7 linked regions of the Homo sapiens genome follow. The protein of the gene in region 6 purifies or fractionates together with the protein of the main gene of each other region. This does not show direct contact. Each region holds a gene or a part of one and is shown on either strand. Other genes may lie near its edges.

Region 1 (3,500 bases), on a different chromosome or scaffold from region 6:
TTCATTCTCCTCTGCATTTTCATGTTTCCATTACGGATAATTTTCCTTCTGTCTGAAGAACAGTCTTTCGTACTTCTTTTAGTGCAGGTCTGCTGACAAAAACCTTTTCCAATTTTTTGTTTCCTTGAAAATATCTTTACAAGGTCTTCATTTCTATACAAGTTCTAGGTTGGCAGATATTTTATTTAAGAACTTTCAAGATATTATTTCACTGTCTTCCAGCTTTCATTGTTTCTGTTGAATAGTCAGTTTTCTTGCTGCTTTGAAGGTACTGAAAGTACTGTTTCCTTTTCTGTGACAGCTTTTAAGATTTTCTCTGTCTTTGCTTTTAGCAAAATGCTATTCTCTCTGTGTGTGTGTGTGTGTGTGTGTGTGTGTGTGTGCACATACACATACTATAGTGTAATATACTATTACTAATATACTATTATGTGTACTATGATGTGGTTAGTTTGCTTTGTGTTTATTCTATCTAGGATTCATAGAGCTTCTCAAAACTGGCTTGGTAACTTTTGTCAATTTTGGAAATTTTTCAGTCAGTATCTCTGAATGTTACTATTTGTTTCTTTTGCCCCATTTCTTCCTTATCATTTTATCCTAAAATTCCAGTTAAACATAAGTTAAATGTTTCATGGTTTCATGTCGTCTTCTTCTTCTTTTTTTTTTTTTTTGAATTTTCATACCTTTATTCTCCATGCTTCAGTCTGGATATCCTCTACTGACCTAACTTCCAGTTCATATAGTGTTTCTTCTGCATGCCTAATCTATTGCTAAAACATCGATCGAGTTCTTAATTTCAATGAACAATGAATGAGTAACTTTTTAGTTAAAGAACTTCCATTTGATTCTCTTGTATATATTCTAATTATCTTGTGAATTATTTTTCTATACCTAACATCTTGCATATTTTGTTCACAGTTACTTTAAAATGTGTACCTGGTAACTCTAATATCTGGATCATTTGTGGTCTCTGTTATCTTTTTTTCTCCTTAAATTTTAGTCATTGCTCTTGTTCTTTGTCATGCCTATTAAATTTTATTAAATGTTGAAGAAAATGTACAAAAAATATATGAAGAAAAATGTTATTTTTCTTCCAAAAGGATTTAATTTTTTCTAGAAGGCATACAGAGTAGAGGCATATCACCTTGATAAAGTTTGGGATTGAGACGATTGATTCAGTGCTTGATTTCAAGGTTTGTGAGGACTAACCTGTTTCTGGTTTGTTATTACTTCCAAGGCATTGTCTTTCACGGATCTGATGGAAAGCCTGCAGTGCTTACCAGTGCTGTCCCTCCTTGACAGGCTTGCAACTCCAATTTTTTGTTGTTGTTGTTTCTTTTGGGGTTTTCTTTGTTTTTGTTTTTTGGTCTCTCAAGCACCGTAAGACTAATGAGCTTTTCATTCTCTTATCTGCCGCTTTTGACTTGGCGTCTTGGTCAGAGAAGCTTAAAAATTGGTGAATTTCCCAAAGGGAAAAGCAGCACAAAATGTTAGGCTCACTTCCTTGTGATTCCCTTTTCTCTACGATCATGGCCTCTCTCAAGGCTTGGTTGCTCTCTGATACCTTTAAACAGCTTATTTTCTTTTTAATTCAGCTTCTATTGTTTTCTGTGGAATAAGATTGGTTTGGTACATGCTATTGTGTCACAGTCAGAAGTGGAAGTCCTAAATTACAAACAGTATTGTTGCAACTGATTAAGATGGTGTACATAGGAAGCCCCTTGGGGATGTTGTAAAGGAGCACCAAAAGTTTTAACTGCTCTAGAATATGTACCATTATGATGGCTACATGTGGGTCTCCTGAAGCACCTAGAAGCTCCTTTTCTCATTCTATTCAATAACCATTTGCTACACCAGAGGTGTACAGTGGGAGACCTCAAGAATCGTTTCCCTGAGTGCTGTTGAAGCAACTCCCAGCCTTGATCTCTGCTGTTTTTTCATTCTTTCGAAAGTGACTTATTGCATTCTTTGTTAGGAAGTGTCTGCTAACAAGCTTTGGCTTGTTTTTTATTCTCGTTCCCAAGTACCTTTTCAATATATTTTTATTTGAATGCTATTTACGTTATTTCTACTTATAGTTAGTGTCTGAAAGCAAACTAAAAGATAAGATTTAGTAAATGTGGAATGGCATAAAAGTAGTGAAAAGAACTTACATGTAAATCAGAAACCACAACAAGCAGATTCTCTTGAGGGTATGCATCTTTCTATACTGGAAAGCAGAAACAATAAACCAATCCTACATATTCTGCCTGCCAAACTTGCAGCTCCCATGTGGCTCTTTTCTCTTTCCTGGTGAGTAGCACCACCTTTGCAAATCTGCCCATGTCAGAAGCCTGAAATGGGGAGGATTTGTTGGGGATGGGTAGAGAAAGTCTCACTTAACCTTTATATCGGATTAATCACTGATTTTATTGGTTCCATCTTACTACCCTCTTCTCCTTCCCCTTCTCCCCATCCCTCCCATGAGCCCACATCCTCTCACCTGATTTGGTAGTCTCCTAATTTGCCTCCTTGTACCAGTATGACTCCCTTCCAAATTAGCCTTCTCCTTAGACATTAAGTCATTTTTCTACAATGCAAACATAAGCATGTCACTACCCTACTTAAAACCCTCTAGGATATATCCAGAATAGGCAAGTCTATAGAGACAGAAAGCAGATTAATGGTTGCCAGGGGCTGATGGGGAGAGGGGGAGTGGGAAGTGATTACTGATGTATATGGGTTTCCTTTGGGGTGGTGAAAATATTCTGCAACAAGATAGTGTGAATATACTAAATGCTACCGAATCATACGCTTTAAAATGGTTAAAGTGGTAATTTTATGTTAAGTGTATTTTACCACAGTTGCTTTTAAAGCCCGATAGGATAAGGTCCACTCATCCCAGCATGTCACTTGGGGCATCACATGGTCCCACTAGCGTTTGCCTGTTCATCTGTCTCTTCTGTTTCCCTCTATTCCTGCATGAATGGGACGACATACAGACTGCTGCATGCGCCCGCAGCTTCACGGCCCCTGCATTTCCACACAGAATTTCCTTTGTCTGCGGTGATCCCTCTGCTGCACGTGCCCACAGTTTCATGCCCCTGCATTTCCATGCCTCCTGCATTTCCACGCCTCCTGCATTTCCACACACAGTTTCCTCTGTCTGCGGTGATCCCTCCACCCCCACCCCACCCACCCACCACTCTCCGTCCAGTGATCTCCTTCAAGACCCCCAAGAAGCTTCCCCTGACACATCTACATCAACAAGCCCACTGTGAACTTCCCTCTCTTTTCTGTCATCTAAACAGGCACAACTGGGAAACCTTTACTGGCAGGTCTTTGTTTCTAGTTCCAGGGAGAATTATATTGTTTTCTAAAAAATAAAGTGGAATGAAGCTTTAAAGTGTTTGTATAACCCTGTTGAAATTCATGACACATTTGTGACCCCCTGGAACATCTGGAACACATGAAGTTAGAGGCTGCAGCTCTAGTGTGGAGGCACCCAAAATAGACAGTTC
Region 2 (3,500 bases), on a different chromosome or scaffold from region 6:
AACTATATTCAAGCAAACTGCTGTTGAAGGTGCATTAAAACAGACTTAAACACATTATTTGAAATAGACAAGATAGTCAAATGCAGTGGCTCACGCCCGTAATCCCAACACTTTGGAAGGCCGAGGCCGAAGGATCGCTTGAAGCCAGGAGTTGGAAAGCAGCCTAGGCAACATAGCAAGACCCGTCTCCATAAAAATTGAAAAATTAGTTGGGTGTGATAGCATGTGCCTATAGTCCCAGCTACTTGGGAGGCAGAGCAGGGAGGAATGCTTGAGCCCAGGGGTTCGAGGCTGCAGTGAGCTATGATCACACCAATGCACTCTAGCCTGGGTGACAGAGCGAGATCCTGTCTCCAAAAAAAATAAAGAAAGAAAATACACAAGACAAAAGCAGGGCCCATGTGAACAAGAGCATGTCATCAAGCAAGGACTAGGGTCAACCCAATTCTAGATCCCTGAGGGCCATTCAGAAAAAGGTTTAATCAGATTTTTCACTAAACATCATATCAGTCCCTCCTTGTCCAGCTTAAGCCCTAATGTAAACTCTTCTTGAGAGCCAGAACACACTTCCTTATCTCCACCAGAAGGCATCAGCAGACCCCAATCCCACCCCTACCCAGAGCGAGCTCTTCACTTCCTGAACTCCCAGAGCGCCTTGCCCATATTACCTGCATAGTTTTTTTCCACTTGCTCTTTTAAGTTTCTGTGTGCCTGTTGTTTGGCCTCTGTGGTCTTGGAAGGCTAGAAGCCCACGCTGTTCATCTTTTCTACCCACATCCTTAGCACAGTGCCTTCCAGCCAGCAGAGAGCACTGTGGCCGAGGGGTTAAAAGGACGGGCTCCCCCTCCCAGTCCTGACTCCCATTGTAGGGCAGCCACTCACTAACAGACTACCCAGAATTAGTCACCTCGGTTTTCCCATCTGGAACCGGGAGATCCACCTACCTGTGGTGGACACCTGGCATTTTATCCACCCTGCTCTTCCCAACTCCACCCTCCAGCCAGTATGCAGGTCCAGCAAGGCCCCTTGGCTCCCTGGTCTCAGAGTTCGGCATAGGACCTAACTGGGCCAATCAGGGCCTTCCCTGAGATTTTCTGAATTGGGTGTGGGGAGAAAGAGTGGGGAGAGCAGAAAAAGCGGCAGAATATTAGTGCAACTGTGAGACAGGAGATGAGAGCCCTAGGGGATCATGTTTCTAGGAAACATCTGAAGAAGGCCCATCTGAAAATGAAGCCAACATTCCCGCTGAGAGAAGCCAGGATCAGAAGTGGAGAGCAGATGGAGGAGGATTTGTGTCCCTGGTTCCAGGAAGTCCAGCTGCACCTGGGCCCTTCCCGCAGCTCAGGACCATCCCTTTCTGAACCAAGTATTTCAACTTCTTCCTGCCAGACCAACGCTTAGCACAGGGCCTGGCACGTGGCAGGTGGGCCACACAAATGGCAGTCAGTAGTCCCTTCAAACTTAAGCTGAAAATATGAAACACTGAGGAGCGGTGCATGGTTTTCCCCAGTCTGAAAACCCCTCTCCTTAAGAAGGTGCTAAAGGCTCCACGTGTACTCAGTAAAAGCTCAGGGCACAGGAGGAGAGGTCGCCCAGGGAAGACACCATCTCCCTTGAGCTGGGAGTCTGGAGGTCAGCTGCCAACTATGCCCTCTCCAGAGGTGTGAATCAAAGATCCCCTATGGGAATTGTGCAAAAATTTACTGGGAGTCAATGCTCAGCTAAGATCTAGGGTGGGGATACCCAGCTGCTTCCTCCTTTATTAACAGGAGGGGACATTATGGGGTCTGGAAAATGCTCTAACAGCCAGCAGCTTGTCACAGGGAAGCCCCCTATACCAACTGGCTCATTCACTGTCTCAAGTGGGACCCAAGGCCTGGGTGCAGTGGCTCATGCCAGCTCATGTTGGCAAAAGCCAACACCGGGCTGCCCAGAGGGGCCTTAGGCAGGGAGCAGCCAGCAGCCACAAACATCCAACAACCTCTCCTGAAGCTTCCCCAGCCTACCTCCCCAGACAGCACTGGGAAGAAAGAGCAAGAGTGGCTGCTGGCAGAAAGGGAAGGCAGGGAGGAAGAGGAAACAGCCCCTGAGAATATCCACAGCCTCAGCGGTAGCTCTCTGGCTAACGTCCAAGAAGTCAGAGGGACAAAAGAGACAGAAGAGAGAAAGTAAGAGAAGGGAATGAGTACTTCCTGAAGTCTACTGTGGCCTCAGCCTATCTTTATTGATCACAATAATCCTCGGGTTAGAGCCACCGTCATCCCATTTTCCAGATGAGGAAACTGAGGCTCAGAGAGGTTAACTTTGCCTCAAGTCATCTGGCAAGCAGCTTAAAGCCAGGACTCCAACTCTAGCCTGTCTGACTCCAAGAATGCAAGCTCTTCCCACAAGTATGCAGGCCCTCTGCTTTGCCAGGGGCTGCAGGGCTCCAGCCACTAGCTCCCCTGCGAGTGGGACTGCAGAGCTATCACCACACACCAGTGACAGTGGCCAAGTCCAGCACACAGCACACATGCACGTGGGTGTGCATTCCAGACACGAGGCTGCCCAGCCCTCTGTTCATCAGATGCTCTGCAATTCCCACTTCACTTCCAACTGCTCCTCTCCCACACCTGCAGCCTGTTCACCCCCCACCTCCACACAGAACCACAGAAACACACCCTGCCATGTGATTGAATCCAAGCAGAGCCCAGGTCACCAACAATACTTCCAGGTGACCAAGCTTCCCTTTTGCCTGAAGCTCTGTGTTAGCCCAGGGTTTCAAAGCTGACATGGGCCCTTGCTGCACTGTGGATTTGGTTTGTCTAAATCCAAAGTGCAGCAAGGCCCATGTCAGGTCCACCGTCCTAGCCAGACCTCAGTACCGACGCCTGAACCCCTAGCTGACTGCTGTGCTCACACTCGCCGCCCATGATCTCTGGCTTTCTTAATGGGATCTGAGGAGGCAAGGCCAGCAGAAAGCTCACCCACTTTTAGGGGCTGCCTGGAGCCAGCACCCATAACTTGGCTCTATGAAGCCTAAACAAGAGGCAGACAACTCAGAAGCAAGCAAGCTGTCCTGAAGACTGAAGACATCCCTGGGATAGGAGGTCCTGCCTCCCCTCCCACCCAGCCCTCTGCAGAGCACTGATGTCTAGCCCCTGTGACTCTACTTAACACAAGATAGGAGGTCCTGCCTCCCCTCCCACCCAGCCCTCTGCAGAGCACTGATGTCTAGCCCCTGTGGCTCTACTTAACACAGGATAAGAGGTCCTGCCTCCCCTCCCACCCAGCCCTCTGCAGAGCACTGATGTCTAGCCCCTGTGACTCTACTTAACACAGGATAGGAGGTCCTGCCTCCCCTCCCACCCAGCCCTCTGCAGAGCACTGATGTCTAGCCCCTGTGGCTCTACTTAACACAGGACCCTCGTGGCTTCCAGTTCTTTATTAACTCATGTTTCAACTCCCATACCGTCTAAAATCTTGAAAACACAAGGGCTCTAAAACGCTTACACAGCTTA
Region 3 (3,075 bases), about 18 Mb from region 6:
GAAGGAGCGGAGCCTCGACATCCTGAAGGTCAGGATCAGGGCCGGGGGTAGGGTCCAGGCCATCGCCTGCCCTTGGGCCGCATCAGCGCAGGGCCGCGCAGTGGTCAGAGTGGGTCTTCCTCCCCCTGCCATCCCGTCCCCTTATGCTAGTCCATCCCTCTGCTGCTGTAGATCTTCCCCCACGTTTTCCCTCCCCAAAGCAGGATTTAGCTGGCTGGGGAGGCCCTGAGCATGAGACCATCGCCCCACTAGTGGGGTCTTCTGGTCTGGGCTGCTGCAATCATGGGAGAGAGCTAGGGTGTGTCCTCCTTTCCCAGCTCGTTCAGACACTTAATGATGGGTGGTTTTCTGGAGGCAGAGCCTTTAGCTCAGAGTGACACCAGTGGTGGAAACGTCAAGGCTCTGACAGGTCACAGGGGAGGTTTGGGTGCAGAAGGGTCCTCACAGCACCCCTCAAGTGTCAGTTGGGGTGGTGGTGCCTAGCTGGGGTTTCCCCAGGGTGGACACGCATACGTACACCTTCCATCTTGCTCTTTCCCTAGGGGAAGGTCATGGCCTCCATGTTCTATGAAGTGAGCACACGGACCAGCAGCTCCTTTGCAGCAGCCATGGCCCGGCTGGGAGGTGCTGTGCTCAGCTTCTCGGAAGCCACATCGTCCGTCCAGAAGGGCGAATCCCTGGCTGACTCCGTGCAGACCATGAGCTGCTATGCCGACGTCGTCGTGCTCCGGCACCCCCAGCCTGGAGCAGTGGAGGTGAGGCCAGCCTGGGTACTGAGATGGGGTTAAGAAGGCTGGACCCAGGGGCATGAGAACCCTTCTGCCCACGTTTTCTGTGTTTTGGGCCAGATGAGTGAGGGGACCCCAGAAGAGGGGGACTGGCAGTTGGGGGGCCTCTGAGCTGCAAAAGACAGGATTTTCCCCTTTTTTCCAGCTGGCCGCCAAGCACTGCCGGAGGCCAGTGATCAATGCTGGGGATGGGGTCGGAGAGCACCCCACCCAGGCCCTGCTGGACATCTTCACCATCCGTGAGGAGCTGGGAACTGTCAATGGCATGACGGTGAGGGTGGTGGCAGGGTTTGGATCCCTGCCAGGGGACGATCTAGAGAGGGAGGCAGGAAGTGGTTACCCCGGTACAGGACAGCTGCATCAAGGAGGCCTTCATTCTGCTCCAGAGGCTTTTAAAAGCTTGGAAATGATGTCGGGGGGCACTCAGTCTGGGATCCCTGTGGTGACTGGATTCCTCTCCTAGATCACGATGGTGGGTGACCTGAAGCACGGACGCACAGTACATTCCCTGGCCTGCCTGCTCACCCAGTATCGTGTCAGCCTGCGCTACGTGGCACCTCCCAGCCTGCGCATGCCACCCACTGTGCGGGCCTTCGTGGCCTCCCGCGGCACCAAGCAGGTGAGACCCTCACAGCCCTGCCTGGAAGCCATGGAGATGTGGGTTGGGCAGTCAGAGCCCAGCGCTGCATCCACCATGGCTCTCCTCACCCTCCAGGAGGAATTCGAGAGCATTGAGGAGGCGCTGCCTGACACTGATGTGCTCTACATGACTCGAATCCAGAAGGAACGATTTGGCTCTACCCAGGAGTACGAAGCTGTGAGTGCTGGGCTTGAGGAAGAAGCCAGGGCTGCTGCCGTAGGGCATCAGATATGAGGACAGAAAGGCTGGGCTGAGGGCTGGGTCAGAGCTGTTAAACTTCACATCTGTCAATTGCCATAGCTGCATGTGGGTGTGGAGGGGACCCCAGTGGAGCCCAGACTTGTGTCCTCTGTAGCCACTCCTACCCCAAGGCACTAATGGGGACCCCATCTGCTTTGCAGTGCTTTGGTCAGTTCATCCTCACTCCCCACATCATGACCCGGGCCAAGAAGAAGATGGTGGTGATGCACCCGATGCCCCGTGTCAACGAGATAAGGTGGTGCAGCATCAGAGTCAGAGACTGCCTCGGGGCTGGTGGACGGGAGGAGACTTAGTCCTGGACAAGCCATCCATGGGCTGCACGATAACACTTCCTTTTTTTTTTTTTTTTTTTTTGCAGCGTGGAAGTGGACTCGGATCCCCGCGCAGCCTACTTCCGCCAGGCTGAGAACGGCATGTACATCCGCATGGCTCTGTTAGCCACCGTGCTGGGCCGTTTCTAGGGCCTGGCTTCCTCAGCCTCTTCTCTTTAGGCCCAGCTGCTGGGCAAGGAATTCCAGTGCCTCCTACGGGGGCAGCACACTTAGATATTCCTGGACATCCAGATAGCTCACATGTGCTGACCACACTTCAGGCTCTGGACTGGAGCTCTCTGGCATGGGGGTGGGGCCTCAGATGCTGGGGCCCAGTCTGCCCCATCTTCATTCCTGCACCTTAAACCTGTACAGTCATTTTTCTACTGACTTAATAAACAGCCGAGCTGTCCCTTGATGCTGAGTGTAGTAGAACAGAGCTTTCTTTTAGAAAATTGAGCAGATTCCCAAATTATAAGAGCAGCCTCACCAGGCAGGGCTCTGGCTAGGGCTGCGTGCCCACACTCGGCATTTTCACACTCGTGACTCTTTGGGACTCGGCAGGAGCGTGTTAACTCTGTGCTCTCTGAGTCCTGTGTCGTGCTGATGCCAGCGCTTACCTGGGGGCTCTGGCTGGTGTCCAGCCCTCCTTCCTCAATTCAGTTGACTCAAAGACCTGACAGAGAGTTCTGCCCTCTTCCTGACACTGGGAGAACACTCATCAGGGTAAAAGGAAGGCTGAGCACTGCGGCCTGTCTGAGGCCAGGCCTGGACTCTTCCTCACTCTTTCTGGTTAGTCCTCCTCCAGTGGCTAAGGCTGCCATTGCATTCTCAAAACCACCCTGGAGTTCTTCAGCCACTGTCACTATTAGGAGCCCCTCCTATTTCCCATCCCTGGGAGCCTCTGCCTGACATTGGACAGAGGGGCAGATGCCATGGAGGGCTGAGGAGCACTTTGGCTTGGAGACCCCAGGGCAGCAGCCTAAGGGCAGTAGCTTATGTGTCTGTGGGTGAGGGCTTCTGAGGAGCAGCTGTGCCCTCCAGTGAACTTGAGTAGCATTGGAGAAATCTCATT
Region 4 (3,939 bases), on a different chromosome or scaffold from region 6:
CTGGCACAACTCCCATTCAGACTGGACCATGGCGAGAGCAAGCCTGTCTCCCTCTCACCGCCCAACTTGGCAAACTGAAGGTTTTGTATTCAGTTCTCTCTCTCGCCTGGCCGGGGAGCTCCTGAGAGCAGTGGCAACATTTGAGATTTATCACCATGCTTCTCTTGCATCCCATGAAACACAAATATTCAACAGAAAGTTCACCTCTGATCAAATGAACAGAATAAATCTGGGGGCAAACACATACCAGGCTGGACTCCATCCGTCTCCTCTCCCAGCATGCAGCTTCCTGGGGGTAGAGACATTACCTTGTACACCATTAGCCCAGTGCCTGATACCAGGTGGGCATTGACTAACTGGTTGCCAAATAATGCAAGAATGGGCTTTGTGCAGCTATAGCCATTTTCCACTCTAAGAAAATCCTACAGACAAAAGTCCAACCATTCAGAACTGGTAAATACTGAAGGCCTGAAGGCTGCTACCGACAATATAATTCTGTGCTTTACCAAAAGCCTTGTAACATGATTCCTTTAAATGTCAGGGTCCCCTGAATAATCTAATTTACAAGAATTCCACTTACACGCAAATTCTGGGAACAAGCCAGGGGAGGCACATCCTGGCCGGGAAATAGCAAGCCTGACTTTGACATCTGCCCTAACAGCTGATTCATTAATAAACGGGATTCCTGGGGTCCTGGCTACATTTTGCCTCGTGGTGTCCAGATTGGAGTGGGGCAGGAGGAGGTCCCTAAGAGTCTGAGGGAACAGCAAGGTCAGTCAGCCAACAGCAGGTGGTCCTGCTACACTCTGCTCCAGAGCACAGATGCCGTATGTGGCTGAAGGGCCTGGGAGGGGGCCAGGAGCACACGGGCTTTGTGTGCACTCTAGGCTAGCTCAGAGAGGAAGACAAACCCCTCATGCCTGGTAAATGGCTGCTCAGCCAGTAAATGTGATCCTACATCCTTCACAGTCACCTGGCTGCTGCCTCCTCCTCCCCGCCAAGGTGTTCAGACCCAAGGTACTGCATCTCTTCTCCCACGACCCATGGAAGAAAACAGTGCTGAAACTGTCACCGGCAGACTTTTGCAGTCATCTCATCCTCCTCACGTAAGTCTCTACGGAAAAGCCTGCCTAAAAGTTACCTCCACCCTCTAGCAGCCTAGTGGACAGAGTCCATCCTCCCTGGATCTTTGTGGACAGCAGCAGGCCACATGCAAACGGCAGAGTGCTCTAAGAAAAAGAAGGAAGTGAGAAAGGGAGGGAAGAAGACAAAACAGGGGATACATTTAAAAACTAACAAAGGCTCTGATGGAGCCAGATGAACCAGATCTGAATCTTGGCTCTGCACACCTGCTGTGTAAGCACAGACAAGACATTAAACCTCACCATTCCTCAGTTCACCTATAAAATGGAACAGTAATACCGACTTTACAGAAAGGCTGTGATTAAAAGTGCATATGAAAAGCTTAAAGTGCTTTGCACAGTGCCGGGCACATATTCTCTCTTGAGCTTAGAAATCTCTGTCAAATGAGATTCTTGTCAACTCTGCCCACTATGAGGATCAAATGGGAAAACTGCCTTAGAATGCCACAGAAGCTGTATTGGACACACCTAGGGGACTGTTACTGGTATGCTGGGCGGCCAAGCCAGCAGACTCAAACAGCTCTGCAAATCAGCCAGAGTGGGGAGTGAGCTTCCTCTGCCTATAAGCACAGAACCCCCACCGAGATTTTTTAGATGCCATCCTTGTGATCCTAGGGCTTCCGGCCTCCACCAAAACGCTCCATGCATCCTTCCAACCCCCGCACAGTCCTCAGTTTACATAGAGAAAAACCAGCACACTAAAGGAAGTGACGTGTCTTTAAACATACAAACAGGAAGCCGAGAACAGAATTAAGGAGGGAATCCAGGCTCCTTATACCAGCCCTGGTTCCTCCCAGAGGCTCATCCCATCTCACTGGGCAATCATTCTACACACCACAACCACCGGTTACACTGTCCCTCCCCGCTGTCAGGGCCTCTGACACCAGTTGTGGCAATCACTTATAGTACAGAGGAGAAACCAAAGTCCAGAGGGAGAGATCACACAGTTGGTGCGCAGCAAAGTCTGGGCTTTTCGATATGGCAGCCTCCCTGCAGACAGGCTGACCTTGGCCGCAAGGGCTCTCGGGCTGTCTTTTTTGAGCTGCACCTGTGTCGGGCTGGCGCTCGGGTGGCACCCAAGGTTAAATACGACAGCAACTTCTGTGCAGCGGGCACTTAACTGTGCCAGGCTCTGAACTGGGCATTTTACCGATTTTACCGATTCCTCCCATCCATCCTCCAAGTGGGCGCTCTCCATATCCCTGTTTCTCGGAAGGGAAACAGGCTCAGAGAAAGGGATTTGCTGCGGTCTGGGGACCGGGGTGGGGGAGTGCCCTGCCTGGGCTTTGAGTGCCTTGACTTTCCTCCTGTACCCCGACCCATGGACTGCTCCGTAGTCCCTGCCCAGGTCCGGCCCGTAGACCTCTTGGGGACGCGCACGTGAGGCCTGTGCCGGCCCGCGCGCACGCGCCGGGTCACGTGACGAGCCGGGGACCCGGGACCTCAGGGCGCCGAAACAGTTAGGGGTCGCAGCCTCCCCTCTCCCAGCGGCTGCCTACCCTTCGCACCGCCTCGCGCTACTCACTCCGGGCGGGGGCTCCCGGGACCGAGAGAAGAAGATGGGGAAGAGGAAGGGAGGGCGGCGGCGGCGGAGACGCCACAAGCCAACCGCAGCTCCGCCAGACCACGACCAGACGCGACAGCTCGCGGCGCGCGCTGCCTTTGTCCGCCAACGTCACTTCCGGGCGTTTAGGGGCGGGCCCATGGCTGGCTCCACCCCCTCGCTCAGCTCGCCCCTCCCCCGCGCGGGCTCCGGATTTAACTTAACTTCTTTTGAAAAATAATTTAAATTTTTTTTTTTTTTTTTTTGAGATAGAATCTTGCTCTGTCAAGCAGGCTGGAGTGCAGTGGCGCGATCTCGGCTCACCGCAACCTCTGCCTCCCAGGTTCCAGCGATTCTCCTGCGTCAGCCTCCAGAGTACCTGGGACTACAGGCGTGAGCTACCACACCCAGCTAATTTTTGTATTTTTAGTAGAGACGGGTTTTCACCATGTTGGCCAGGCTGGTCTCGAACTCCTGACTTCAAGTGATCCGCCCGCCTCTGCCTTCCGAAGTGTTGGGATTATAGGCGTGAGCCACCGCACCTGGCCTAATTTGACTTCTTTAAAAAAAAAAAATTAGAGACGGGGTCTCACCCTGTTGCTCAGGCTGATCTTGAACTCCTGGCCTCAAGCGAGGCTTCCACCTCGGCCTTCCAGACTGCTGGGATTACATGCGTGAGCCACCGCGCCCAACACAGGTTACAGCTCAAAACTTGACTAAATTGACTTTTGGGAATCTAGAAGGACCTCCCGAACGGAAAAGAGCCGCAGCGTCGCCCTCTCCCCGTCCCCAGCACGTACAACAGTTCGTTTGGAGGCTGCAGGCTGGACTTCTAAAAACGAGTGTGTTGTGCGGGCTTTGAGTAAAAAGGGAAAAAAAAGCCATTGGTCCTCAAATCCACCCATCTCCATTAGCATCTTAAAATAATACCGACCCCCCAAAATAAATAAAATAAAAAGAAATACTCTCGGCAGTGCCATGGGATTCCCACTGAAATGAGCAAAACAAGCCCATGACGTTTCCATTCCAAAAGCGTGGCCCTTCCCTAGGCTCCTCCCATGCAAAGAAATTCTGGAGCTATCTCCGAGGCAGCGGTGATGGAAACGGGAGCTTGCAGGTGGGTAGAGCCTGTTAACATTTCCGAGCTTCAGTCTCCTGTCAGAAGAGGAAGTTGAGCAACGTAATAATTACTCAACTTCTGATGCTCTGAGAGGGTTAAACTTGTGGGACATTGCACGTCAGACCTTCAGCTCA
Region 5 (3,500 bases), on a different chromosome or scaffold from region 6:
TTTATTCCCTTTATTTTTATATTCTGTTATTTCCTTATACAATAGAGTATGAATGAAAACAAGTATCTACAAGACCAGTATTTCTTCAATTTTCACCTTGTGAAAGCTGGGTATTAAAATAAAAATAAATTAAACTCTTGGGCTGGGAACTCCCTGACCATATTTCTCTCACTGTGCTGGGTGTCTCTACGCCCCCTTTCAATCTTGAGTACATATAGTCAATAGGCACTGCATGCACTGGGGGAGCACCTGGCCCATCAAGGGCCTTTCCCAGAGGAAGTAATGAATAAAGAACAGATGAAGAGCTGAGTAGTGGTTCCTGACCTGCCAGCAAGAGAGGAGGGGCAGCATTTTAGATTTGAGTCATCTCCACTGGAGTCTGCCAGTAATCAGTTGTGTGACTTTAAGCATATCAATTAGAAACAGAAAGCTTGGCATCCCGAAAAGAAAACCATTCCTTCAATTTTCTACCAATTTCTCTGCTGAAATGGTACTTATTTGTAACACAGTACCTTAAAATGAGTCCGCAGGGAACTGGAAAATGTTATTTTTTTGAAGTTTTACACATTCAGTATACTTTGCATCAGTAATAAAAGTATATTAGTAAAAGTATACTCAAGTATAGGATATTACGAATTGAATTTCAGCAAGACTTGAATTTTACTCCTCATTATTTATCCAAAAAGGAAAAAAGATCCGAGGATTTGTAAGTGACGTGACCAAACTCCAAAGGCTGTTAGCGGTATCCGCATATTCAGGATGCAAATCACTCTCTAGTCAACTGCACTTGCTACTAAACTGTGATTCACTGGCTGTTAGTGGTATCCGCATATTCAGGATGCAACACCCTCTCTAGTCAACTGCTCTTTCCACTAAACTGTGATTCACTGGGTGCCGATTTCTTCATCTCAAGAGGTGATGATTACCCCCTTTGTAATACTACCTATCTCATAGGACTATGAAGACTAAAGAAAATAAGGTATACAAGAGCATTTAACAAATTTACCATACCACTTCATACTATTGTGGAGAGGGCCAAGAGACAAGAAATCTGGTAGCATTTAAAGTGCTAAGAGCACAAAATAGAAGTGTTATAAGGTCATCTCACCAGCCAGATCTATACTTTAGCTTGATTATACAATAAAAGCATTGACCTTGCCACTCTCCAAAACTATCAGCGCAAGCTACAATGCCCCCTCACACTGGCAATTTACCATGAGATTTCTAATCAATAATCAAAACATTGTATTGTATACTTCCTGCTCTGAACAACAGGTACCAAAATTTCAGCAGCCAGGTAGGTTGGAGTTCACAATCAGGCAGCCTAGAATTACACTCAGCCCACAAATATGTTTTGATCAACATAATTTTTAATGGCAAATTTTTAAACTAAATACATTAAAATCCACGACATGCAGTGGCTCACACCTGTAATCCCAACAATTTGGGAGGCCATGGCAGGAGTATCATTTGAAGGCAGGAGTTCAAGACCAGCCTAGGCAACATAGATAGACACCATCTCTACAAAATTTTTTTAAAAATTAGGCCGGGCGCAGTGGCTCACGCCTGTAGTCCCAGCACTTTGGGAGGCCAAGGCAGGTGGATCACCTGAGGTCGGGAGTTCGAGACCAGCCTGACCAACATGCAGAAACCCCGCCTCTACTAAAAATACAAAATTAGCCAGGCGTGGTGGCGCATACCTGTAATCCCAGCTACTCAGGAGGCTGAGGCAGGAGAATTGCTTGAACCCAGGAGGTGGAGGTTGCAGTGAGTCAAGATCGCGCCATTGCACTCCAGCCTGGGCAACAAGAGCGAAACTCCTTCCCACAAAAAAAATAAAAGCAACAACTAGCTAGTACATGGCCGGATGCAATGGCTCACCCCTGTAATCCCAGCACTTTGAGAGCCTGAAGCAGGCGGATCACTTGAGGTCAAGAGTTCAAGACCAGCCTGGCCAACACGGCAAAACCCTGTCTCTACTAAAAATACAAAAATTAGCTGGGCGTGGTGATGGGCACCTGTAGTCCCAGCTACTCAGGAGGCTGAGGCAAGAGAATCGCTTGAACCCGGGAGGCGGACATTGCAGTGAGCCAAGGTCATGCCACTGCACTCCAGCCTGGGCAACAAGAGCGAGACTTTGTCTCAAAAAAAGAAAAAAAAAAAAAACTAGCTACACATAGTGGCATGCGCCTGTAGTCCTAGCTATTGGGGAGGCAGAGGTGGGAGGATCACTTGAGCCCAGAATTCAAGGCTGTAGTGAGCTATTACCACGAAACTGCACTCTAGCCTGATAGGACGATACCCTGTCTCTAAAAGTTAAATAAATAAATAAGAATAAATTAAAATCCAGATTTCCAGCATCTTTTCCAAAAAGTGTCAAAAGATCCAAGGACACTGGGCCCACTTCCTCACATGGCAACAAGCAAGTGGAGCTGAGCAGCAACTGCTCCCTTTAGTTTGGGCCCGTGCTCTCCAGTTCATCAAGGCCCAGCCTACTCATCCTAGTACATAACAGGCATCGGACTTGGAGACCACTGAGGAAGATGCTCAAACAGAACAATAATAATAATTTAATGAAGATTTGTTTACTCTTTTTTGGCCAGTTTTTTGTGGCTCTATCACACATTAGCTCTGTGACTCTTAAGTAACATATTTAACCACTAAGCCTCTTAAATTTAACACAAGCTGAAATATGCTGACTTCTGAGTCAAAAAACTTCACAAAAACTTCGAACTCACAGAAACAAGTCAGGGCACCTCCCATAGGGAAAAAACGTAATGTGGCCACGAATGGTGGCTCACGCCTGTAATCCCAGCACTTTGAGAGCCCGAGGCAGGCAGATCACTTGAGGTCAGGAGTTTGAGACCAGCCTGGCCAACACAGCAAAACCCCGTTTCTACTAAAAACACAAAAATTGGCCAGGCGTGGTGGCACCTGCCTATAGTCCCAGCTACTTGGGAGGCTGAGGCAAGAGAATCTCTTGAACCCAGGAGGCAGAGGTTGCAGTCAGCCAAGATCATGCCACTGCACTCCACCCTGGGTGATAGAGCAAGACTGTCTCAAAAAAAAAAAAAAAAACAAGTAACGTGACAGAAGTCCTTGTCATATAATAATTTGACATCTACAACTGCGTCCGTAACAGTAAGGCCTATACATCAGAATAACAGATTGCCAGCAAATTATCTTAGGCTGAATCATATAAATCCACTCAACTGCAAAAGTTTCTGAAGTCTTCAGGTATAAGTCAATAAGCAAAACAAGCTCCCCCACCAAAAAAGAAAAACATTTAAAGTAACAGATAAGGCTATGAGCTCCTTTAGTGCAAAGGCCACTTCCATTCCTCGTGATCCCTCCTGTCTCACAATGACTGGCACACTGAAGCTACAGCTCAAGGGCAAGTTTCTCTCTGAAGCCTTTCCAGAGGGTCCGCATCCACATCACAAAGAACAAGCAACATGGTGTAGTAATGAAGAGTGCCGATCTCAGTGTTCAGCAGATAA
Region 6 (3,500 bases):
CACCTGTAGTCCCAGCTACTCGGGAGGCTGAGGCAGAAGAATGGTGTGAACCCGGGAGGCGGAGCTTGCAGTGAGTAAAGATGGCACCATTGCACTCCAGCCTGGGCGACAGAGCGAGACTCCTTCTAAAAAAAAAAAAAAAAACAAAAAACAAAAAACAAAACAAAACAAAAAAAACTCTTCTTGAAGCCAGGCGCAGTGGCTCACTTCTCTTATATAATCCCAGAATTTTGGGAGGCTGAGGCGGGTGGATCACTTAAGGTCAGGAGTTTAAGACCACCCTGGCCAACATGGTGAAACCCTGTTTCTACTAAAAATACAGAAATTAGTCGGGTGTGGTGGCTCATGCTTGTAATCCCAGCTACTTGGGAGGCTGAGACAGGAGAATCGCTTGAACCCGGGAGGCAGAGGTTGCAGTGATCCGATATCATGCCACTGCACTCCAGCCTGGGCAACAGAGCAAGACTCCATCTCAAATTTTAAAAAACTCTTCTTAAGCTTGATTACATTTTTAGTCTTATCTATCTCTTGGGGTCAGGAGCTCAGTGAGTCTACTCCTTGCTGGCAAATACAGGTGACTTTTCACTAACATAAAACTACCTCTTTGAGACTTCAAGGTGGGGTAGAGGTCAGGGATGAGGAGAGAGGAGATCCTCATTTCAGCATCTGGGTTTCATGATAGGCTTCTGTTTTTCCTCCTCTTCCCCAGCACAGTATTACAGATTTCAGTTATATTTCCTCTGGAGTTTCAATTTTGTTTAGATGTCAGTGAGTTACGATGAATTGTATGTTCCTGTCCTCCTGGTTCTCCCAGCACAGTACAGACTTTTGGCCACTTCACATGGTTTCTGACAGAAAACTAAATCTCAAACAGGTGCAACCATGCTGATTAGCATTATAATAGATTGTAATTACTAACAAGCCCATATATACCCAGAGGAACTTGGAGAGAAATATAATGTTTTGCCAAGTGTAGCTTTTATTTATGTAAAATATTGCAGGCCTGCTCTGGAGTTATTTTAGCCTAAGTGAAACCCCTGGAAGCTTTGTCTGAACATGCTTCAATAGCTCTATGAGTTCAGGCGCCGGAATTTGAAATTTCGTTTCTTGTTGCTGCCAACTACAAAGGGTTTTGTATCTAAAGCCCTGATGAGAATTTGAACTTCATTTAAACTCTGCAAATGGAGGACAAGTGGGCCTTTTTCTTCTTCCCTCACCATGGCACCTGGAATGGGCCCTGGGCACTCAGAGGGTAGAAAATTCCTACTTTTGGGAAATTCAGACTTGACGGAGATTCTTCAGCTTGATGCAAATTGCTATGTGGAAATAATATAGCATTCTCTCATAAGAACATCTTCAGGGATCTCATAGATTTTTATAAAATAAAATATCCTTTTCTCCTTCCTCCTCCTCCTCACTTCTTTCAACTGTACAGAAGGATTGTTTAAGAAATTCATTCAACTGGTTTCTATCGAGATGCCATGCTCCTCAGAGGCAGGAACTACACATACACAACTTTTGTGTTACCAAACCCCATATCTACCAACAGTGCTAGACCATAGTAGGTACTATAGAAATACACACTTGTTTTGTGTTCATTCATTCATTCATTCATTCAACAATGTGCCAAGAAATTTATTCATTCATTCAACAATTTATTCATTCATTCAACAAAGTGCCAGGCACTGTTTTGGGTGCTGAGATAAAGCGGTGAACAAAAAGCTCTACATTTATAGAGCGTCTGGTGTTCTGGTATTAGAAATAAACAACAAAGATAAATAAGAAAACTAAATAGCGTATCAGATAGAGGTAAGAGTAAAGAGTAAAAAAAAAAAAAGGCAGGAAAGGCGCATATGAAGCATAAAATAAGAGGGTGAACTTTTAGATAGGATTGCCAGAAAAGGCCTTACTGAGAACATAACATCTGAGCGAAGACTTGAGCCATGTGGATATCTGGGAAAAGGGCATTCTAAAAAAATGGGATGGCAAGGGTAAAGACTGAGGCAGGAGCATGGTAAGTGCATTTAAGGGGTGTCAAGTGGGTCAGGATAGCTAGAGAGGAATGAACAGGGAGAAGAGTGGCAAGTGATAGGGTCAGAGAGGTCACAGCAGAAGGCCTGACTTTGTTGGTCTTGTAAATTATGGTAAGGGATAATCTCACCTGAGAGATCTGTGAGCAGAGACAGGAGCTGAGAAGCCAGGACAGGTGGAAGCAATTCAGAGGCTGTTGAAATAATCCAGGTGTGAGATAATAGTGACTTGGACCCAAGTGAGGTCAGCAAAGGTATGGAAAGGATGTGATCTGAGATATATTTTGAAGGCAGAAAGAGCAGATGTTGCTGATGGATAAGATATGGGGCACCTGAGAATTACAGGCGTCAAGGATGGCCCCTCAAGGTTTTTGGCTGGGTAATTGGAAGGATGGAGTTGCCATTTCTTAAGCTGAGGAAGAAGGGCTTAGATTGAGGAGAGGGGAAAATAGGTATACAATATTAGGCATATGGAGTTTAAGATGCCCTTTACACAATGAAAGCTGAGGACCTGAAGGCAATCCCATATATAAAGTCTAGAGTTCAGGGTCAGGCATGAGCTGGAATTAGGAATTTAGTGTCAACAGCACTGAAAGTGTATTTAAATCCATGAAACTAGATGACATTGGCACAGTAAAACCAAAACACCAGCTCCCAAATATCCTCATTTCCAATTACCCATACCTCTTCAATAAATAATTAACCTTTGTCTACAATGACCGCAGCTTCTAGACTTTCCAGAACAATCTCATTTCAAGTAATTCTATTATCTTCCAAAGGGCAATTTGTTAAGTATAACTAAGTCAAATTTATTTTTAGAGTATGTAAGACTTTTCATATAAATACATTCACAAATCAAGGAGAAAAATATATTTCACTGGACCATATGTTCTGATTTAAGATTCTAAAACTATGAACACACAAATGACTCTTCAAATATTAATAAAATTGCTGAAATGTATTATAGCCAGACCACTTGCTACAAGCTTTATAGTTCCTTATTTAATTCTCATAGCAACTCTGAAAGTCAAGACCTACGACATTTCCATTTTACAGATGAAGAAACGGGCTTAAAAAGCCTAAGTCACATGCTCAAAGTCACACAACTAGTGAGTGGTGGAGATGCCTTCCAGTTAGAACTCACTGAATCCAGGGAGAGCGGTCCATTGAGGAGCCAGGGAATTCAGGGTCTCAAATATTCACTAAATCTGCTGCTGGTCAAAGACACTAAGAAGAAGAAACAGTTCAAACAACGCTTGACTGTCCATGAAGTTGAAGGCTAACTCAGGTCCTTAACTCTAGGGACCCAATGCCAAGAGGTTGTCTGTGATAGCACTGGGCCAAGAATGAATCCTTTGGGTAGTTGTTAAACAACCAGCTATGGACCAATGAGAGCAATATTGGATTACATGGTATTATGGGAGTAGGGGAAAGGGAGATCCAGGGACCCTTGGCTGCTGGGGAAATAAT
Region 7 (3,500 bases), on a different chromosome or scaffold from region 6:
CCCTGGGCAGGCCCAGAGGTGCTGAGAGGTTGTAAGGGCAGACAGTCTACTCAGCCCTCCTGCTATCTGGGTTCTATCTCTCCCAGATGAAGCCAGAGAGCCAGGAGGGATGTGTGGGAGCCAGCTCCCCGAGGCATTAGGGCTCCAGCCTGGCAATGCTGCATCTTGTCGCCCAGGGACATCTGTGCCCACCGTAGGGGTGCCATGAGCCAGACCCAGCCCTGTGGGAGGGAAGAGAGGGAAGGAGGCGGTGGGTGCCGTGGAAACTTGGGCTCCTGACAACTTGAGGGCTGCCACAGAAATAGCGGCCTCGGTTCCCTGAACCAGAAAGGCAAGTCAGAGGAGAAAACAGTGGTGGCATCCCTGTGAACCTGCACACCCGGCTCGTTGTGTCCCTGTCAGAGCCCAGGCCCTCCATGCCAGGGAGTCCTCTCGCTGTTGGGGGAGGGGCCCTCGCATCTCCATCCTGTTCCACAGGCTTCCCCATCCCTGTCACTTCAAGGGCCTGCTCCCTCCTGAAGGGCAGTTGCATGGAGGCCCCCACATCCCCTCTTCTCACTTCTTATGGGTCAGGTCACTTCATTCTGAGAGCAAGTGGGAGGCAGGCCCCACAAACCACTGCAGGGTGGGGGTATCCCAGTGCCCACTCTGAACAGACCTTTCCAGAAGGACATTTCTGTGTCTGCCCAAGACTGAGGGAGGTGCCGAGATGGGGACACTCCGGGCACAGGCTTTACACAACACCCCCAACCCCATGCAATAATTTGCTCTGCCCAGTCCGCCTTTTGGGGAGCCTCAGATTTCCCAGCCTCTGCCCAGCCCCGACGCTGCCCTGCCATCCTATCTTTGCTGACCATGGAAGGAGCAGATCTGGACCTTACTTAGTCATTCTCTCCGCAAAATTGCATAATCTGACTCTAAAAATTGCCAGGCGCACGGCTCTGCTGTCAGGTCTAATTCCCATCAGGTGAAAGAGGAAACGTCTTGGCTGAGGCAACCTTGTTCCTCAGGCTGTGGAGGGCCCCCTTCCCGGGAGCGGCAGGAGCAGGTGGGGGCAAGATGGCTTCTGTCCCCACACTTCCCCTCAGCTGCCCCTGCGCAAGGTGTACCCCTGCTCACCCAGTGACTCACAAACCTGTTGTGCTCCTGGGCTCGTTAGGTAAATGAATACACTTAATTATAGAAATTAGATGAGTCTCCGGTTCTGGCAGGAATACAGAGCGCAGAGGCTGGGTGGGAATGGCAGGTGACTCAGAGGCAGGGCTGGGAGTTTGAGGGAGAGGGAGAGGGAAGAAGAACTGTCGCAGAAGCAGAGGAAGCAGCGTGGAGAGCGATGCTGCAGCTCGGGGCGCAGAAGGGACACCAGGTGCCGCCAGTGGGAGTCACCACTGAATCTGGGCAGAGGCTTCCTGAGGGAAGGGCCTCCCTCGCCTAGGCAGCCCGCCCACGGCCTGCACCAAGCCTGAAGCTACAACGCTAGGGACCCCTACCTGCGCCCCAAGCCAGGGATAGAAAACATCAGGCCTCTTCTCCCAGGGCAGCACTGCCCATAGGCACTGCTCTTCCAAGGAGTCAAACCACCTTTACACCAGCAGAGATGCCCGACATAACAGCCTTGTTCCTTGCTGGTCTGGGTGTGGGGTGGACAGACAGACAGACAGACAGGCTGTTCGGCTACTGGTTAAAGGCTATGAGGAATGGAAATACATTCACAGTGATTAAAGATATTAACATAGGCGTGGCTCCCCAACAAGGCTGACTGGCCCCAGGCGCTCTGTGCACACATAAACGCCTGGTGGCTGAGACTGGCCCTGGTGGGACCCCGAGAGGAAGGCAAGGCCGAAAGACAGGTCCGGGGTGTGCACCTACAGCCCAGGAAGAGGCCAATATGGGGAGAAGCTCTGGGATTGCTTTCCCCTTTGCTCTCCGGTTCCAGAGCTGAACCTTTTGGGAAGCTTGGAGCTATGGAGGGCAGGCTCGGGGGCCTAAGTTCTCCTCTGTCCTGACTGCTCCCCCCTGCTCCCTCCTGCTGCCCGCGTGGGCCCTGGGGAGTGAGCGCTGAGGGCATGGAAGGGTGCCTGTTTGTGCGCGTGTGCCCAGAGGGGAAGGTGCAGCTAAGGGGCAGAGTGACCAGGGGGTGGGCCGGTGAGGGGGTGGAAGGGGGTGAGCAGGAACTTTTTCAGAGGGTAGGGCAAGCTGTAACGCGATGCCAGTGGAGACAGCCCCAGGCTGGTTCCAGCTGCTCCAACTATGTTGTTTAGACTCCGGGACTTTCCACAGCCTTGGTGAAGAAAAGGCACATGGGTCAGTGGGCGCAGCTCCACAGGGTCCACGCTCCAGGAGACACTGCAGGGCGGGTGGCCCTGGGCTGGTGTGGAGGGGCCTGGCCCTCCTTGACTCTCCCTGGCCTCAGGTCTCCTGGGCTCCTGAGGACAGACTCCAGGGCCCCACACCCAGCTGACTTTTGTCCTGTCCTGCCCCCAGGTAAGCTTCCCACCAGCTCCTTGATAGCCCAGCTAGACAAAGACCCCACAGCCTCCAGCATCAGCCTTCTTGACTCTAAGAAGCCCTAATTAGCACCTGCCACCATCCTCCCAGGGAACTGACACTCTGATACATGGGCCTGTGTGGAGGAGGCCCAGACCCACTCACTCCTGGTCTTAAGCATAACCTGAGTGTGGAGAAGTGCGGCACGGTACGGCGTGGAGAAAGTTGCCGAGTGTGCATTGGGAGTTTGGCAATGTTAACTGCCACGCTTGCTTAGCAGGGCCTGTTTCCCAGCAACCCACCTGTTCCCTCTCGAAGGTCACTCTAATTGGCTGAGCTACATGCCTGTTGCCAAGAAGCAGTGTGGAGGCATCTTGAAAACAGAGCAGACAGGCCCCACAGGCACCCCAGGGATACTGGATGGTGAGATGCTGGCTCTCCTGCCCCGTGCACGTGCCGGTGAAACTCCTTCCCCAGGTGCAGTCCACTCCCAGTACCTCGTGGTCCCTCCTGACTGGTACCCTCACGGCCTCTTCCACACCTATTTCCACTGAGCCCCTCACAGCCCAGGGAGGAAAGCAGGGATGCGTGGCACTCAGCTCTGTGTGCTCGAGTCCTACACAGGGACCACTCGTTCTAGACTGTCTGCTTAGCACGGTCCAGCCAGAGCAAGGCTTTGGGCCTGAACAAGGACACAGTGGAAGCCACTGCCTGTTTGGGATGGTCGGCGGGAGAGAAGGCCAAATCCAGGCCCAAGGATAGGACACGGGGGTGAACAAAGGAACACAGGCGAGGGTAGAGGTCTGAGCACCCTCCATCTGCTGCCTTTTGCTGGGGTTGCTGGACCACTTCCTTCTAGGCACCAGATCACTATTCCCATTTCTGCCAGTCCACAGAACACATGCCCAACAAAGCTGGACACACACCTTTCAGGGGCTGGTTAGGCTCAGGGTGGCCTGGGGCTTCCATGGGGAGAGTGGTACTGAAAGGTCTGGGAAAGAAACTAGAAGGTG

Evidence for each region.
Region 1: the proteins of PRKCE (region 6) and CPVL purify together in Homo sapiens (affinity purification with mass spectrometry; one large-scale study listed by BioGRID and IntAct). This does not show direct contact.
Region 2: the proteins of PRKCE (region 6) and PSAT1 purify together in Homo sapiens (affinity purification with mass spectrometry; one large-scale study listed by BioGRID and IntAct). This does not show direct contact.
Region 3: the proteins of PRKCE (region 6) and CAD purify together in Homo sapiens (affinity purification with mass spectrometry; one large-scale study listed by BioGRID and IntAct). This does not show direct contact.
Region 4: the proteins of PRKCE (region 6) and NTMT1 purify together in Homo sapiens (affinity purification with mass spectrometry; one large-scale study listed by BioGRID and IntAct). This does not show direct contact.
Region 5: the proteins of PRKCE (region 6) and MAPKAP1 purify together in Homo sapiens (co-immunoprecipitation; one study listed by IntAct). This does not show direct contact.
Region 7: the proteins of PRKCE (region 6) and KCNC4 purify together in Homo sapiens (affinity purification with western blotting; one study listed by BioGRID). This does not show direct contact.

Annotation. Positions count from the first base shown.
Region 1 is NC_000007.14:29,000,038-29,003,537, reverse strand, and holds part of CPVL (probable serine carboxypeptidase CPVL isoform b precursor), read left to right. Parts: intron 1-2,153; exon of another isoform or gene 2,154-2,209; intron 2,210-2,482; exon of another isoform or gene 2,483-2,569; intron 2,570-3,500. UniProt on the Homo sapiens protein: May be involved in the digestion of phagocytosed particles in the lysosome, participation in an inflammatory protease cascade, and trimming of peptides for antigen presentation.
Region 2 is NC_000009.12:78,314,125-78,317,624, reverse strand, and holds part of PSAT1 (phosphoserine aminotransferase), read right to left. Parts: intron 1-3,500. UniProt on the Homo sapiens protein: Involved in L-serine biosynthesis via the phosphorylated pathway, a three-step pathway converting the glycolytic intermediate 3-phospho-D-glycerate into L-serine.
Region 3 is NC_000002.12:27,241,369-27,244,443, forward strand, and holds the end of CAD (multifunctional protein CAD), read left to right. Parts: coding exon 1-28; intron 29-542; coding exon 543-755; intron 756-933; coding exon 934-1,059; intron 1,060-1,251; coding exon 1,252-1,407; intron 1,408-1,503; coding exon 1,504-1,605; intron 1,606-1,829; coding exon 1,830-1,924; intron 1,925-2,047; coding exon 2,048-2,150; 3' UTR 2,151-2,575; downstream 2,576-3,075. UniProt on the Homo sapiens protein: Multifunctional protein that encodes the first 3 enzymatic activities of the de novo pyrimidine pathway: carbamoylphosphate synthetase (CPSase; EC 6.3.5.5), aspartate transcarbamylase (ATCase; EC 2.1.3.2) and dihydroorotase (DHOase; EC 3.5.2.3).
Region 4 is NC_000009.12:129,625,024-129,628,962, reverse strand, and holds the start of NTMT1 (N-terminal Xaa-Pro-Lys N-methyltransferase 1), read right to left. Parts: upstream 2,801-3,939; 5' UTR 2,668-2,800; exon of another isoform or gene 248-2,667; intron 1-247. UniProt on the Homo sapiens protein: Distributive alpha-N-methyltransferase that methylates the N-terminus of target proteins containing the N-terminal motif [Ala/Gly/Pro/Ser]-Pro-Lys when the initiator Met is cleaved.
Region 5 is NC_000009.12:125,700,709-125,704,208, forward strand, and holds part of MAPKAP1 (target of rapamycin complex 2 subunit MAPKAP1), read right to left. Parts: intron 1-3,500. UniProt on the Homo sapiens protein: Component of the mechanistic target of rapamycin complex 2 (mTORC2), which transduces signals from growth factors to pathways involved in proliferation, cytoskeletal organization, lipogenesis and anabolic output.
Region 6 is NC_000002.12:45,658,175-45,661,674, reverse strand, and holds part of PRKCE (protein kinase C epsilon type), read right to left. Parts: intron 1-3,500.
Region 7 is NC_000001.11:110,227,314-110,230,813, reverse strand, and holds part of KCNC4 (voltage-gated potassium channel KCNC4), read right to left. Parts: intron 2,282-3,500; coding exon of another isoform or gene 2,115-2,281; exon of another isoform or gene 2,016-2,114; intron 1-2,015. UniProt on the Homo sapiens protein: Voltage-gated potassium channel that opens in response to the voltage difference across the membrane, forming a potassium-selective channel through which potassium ions pass in accordance with their electrochemical gradient.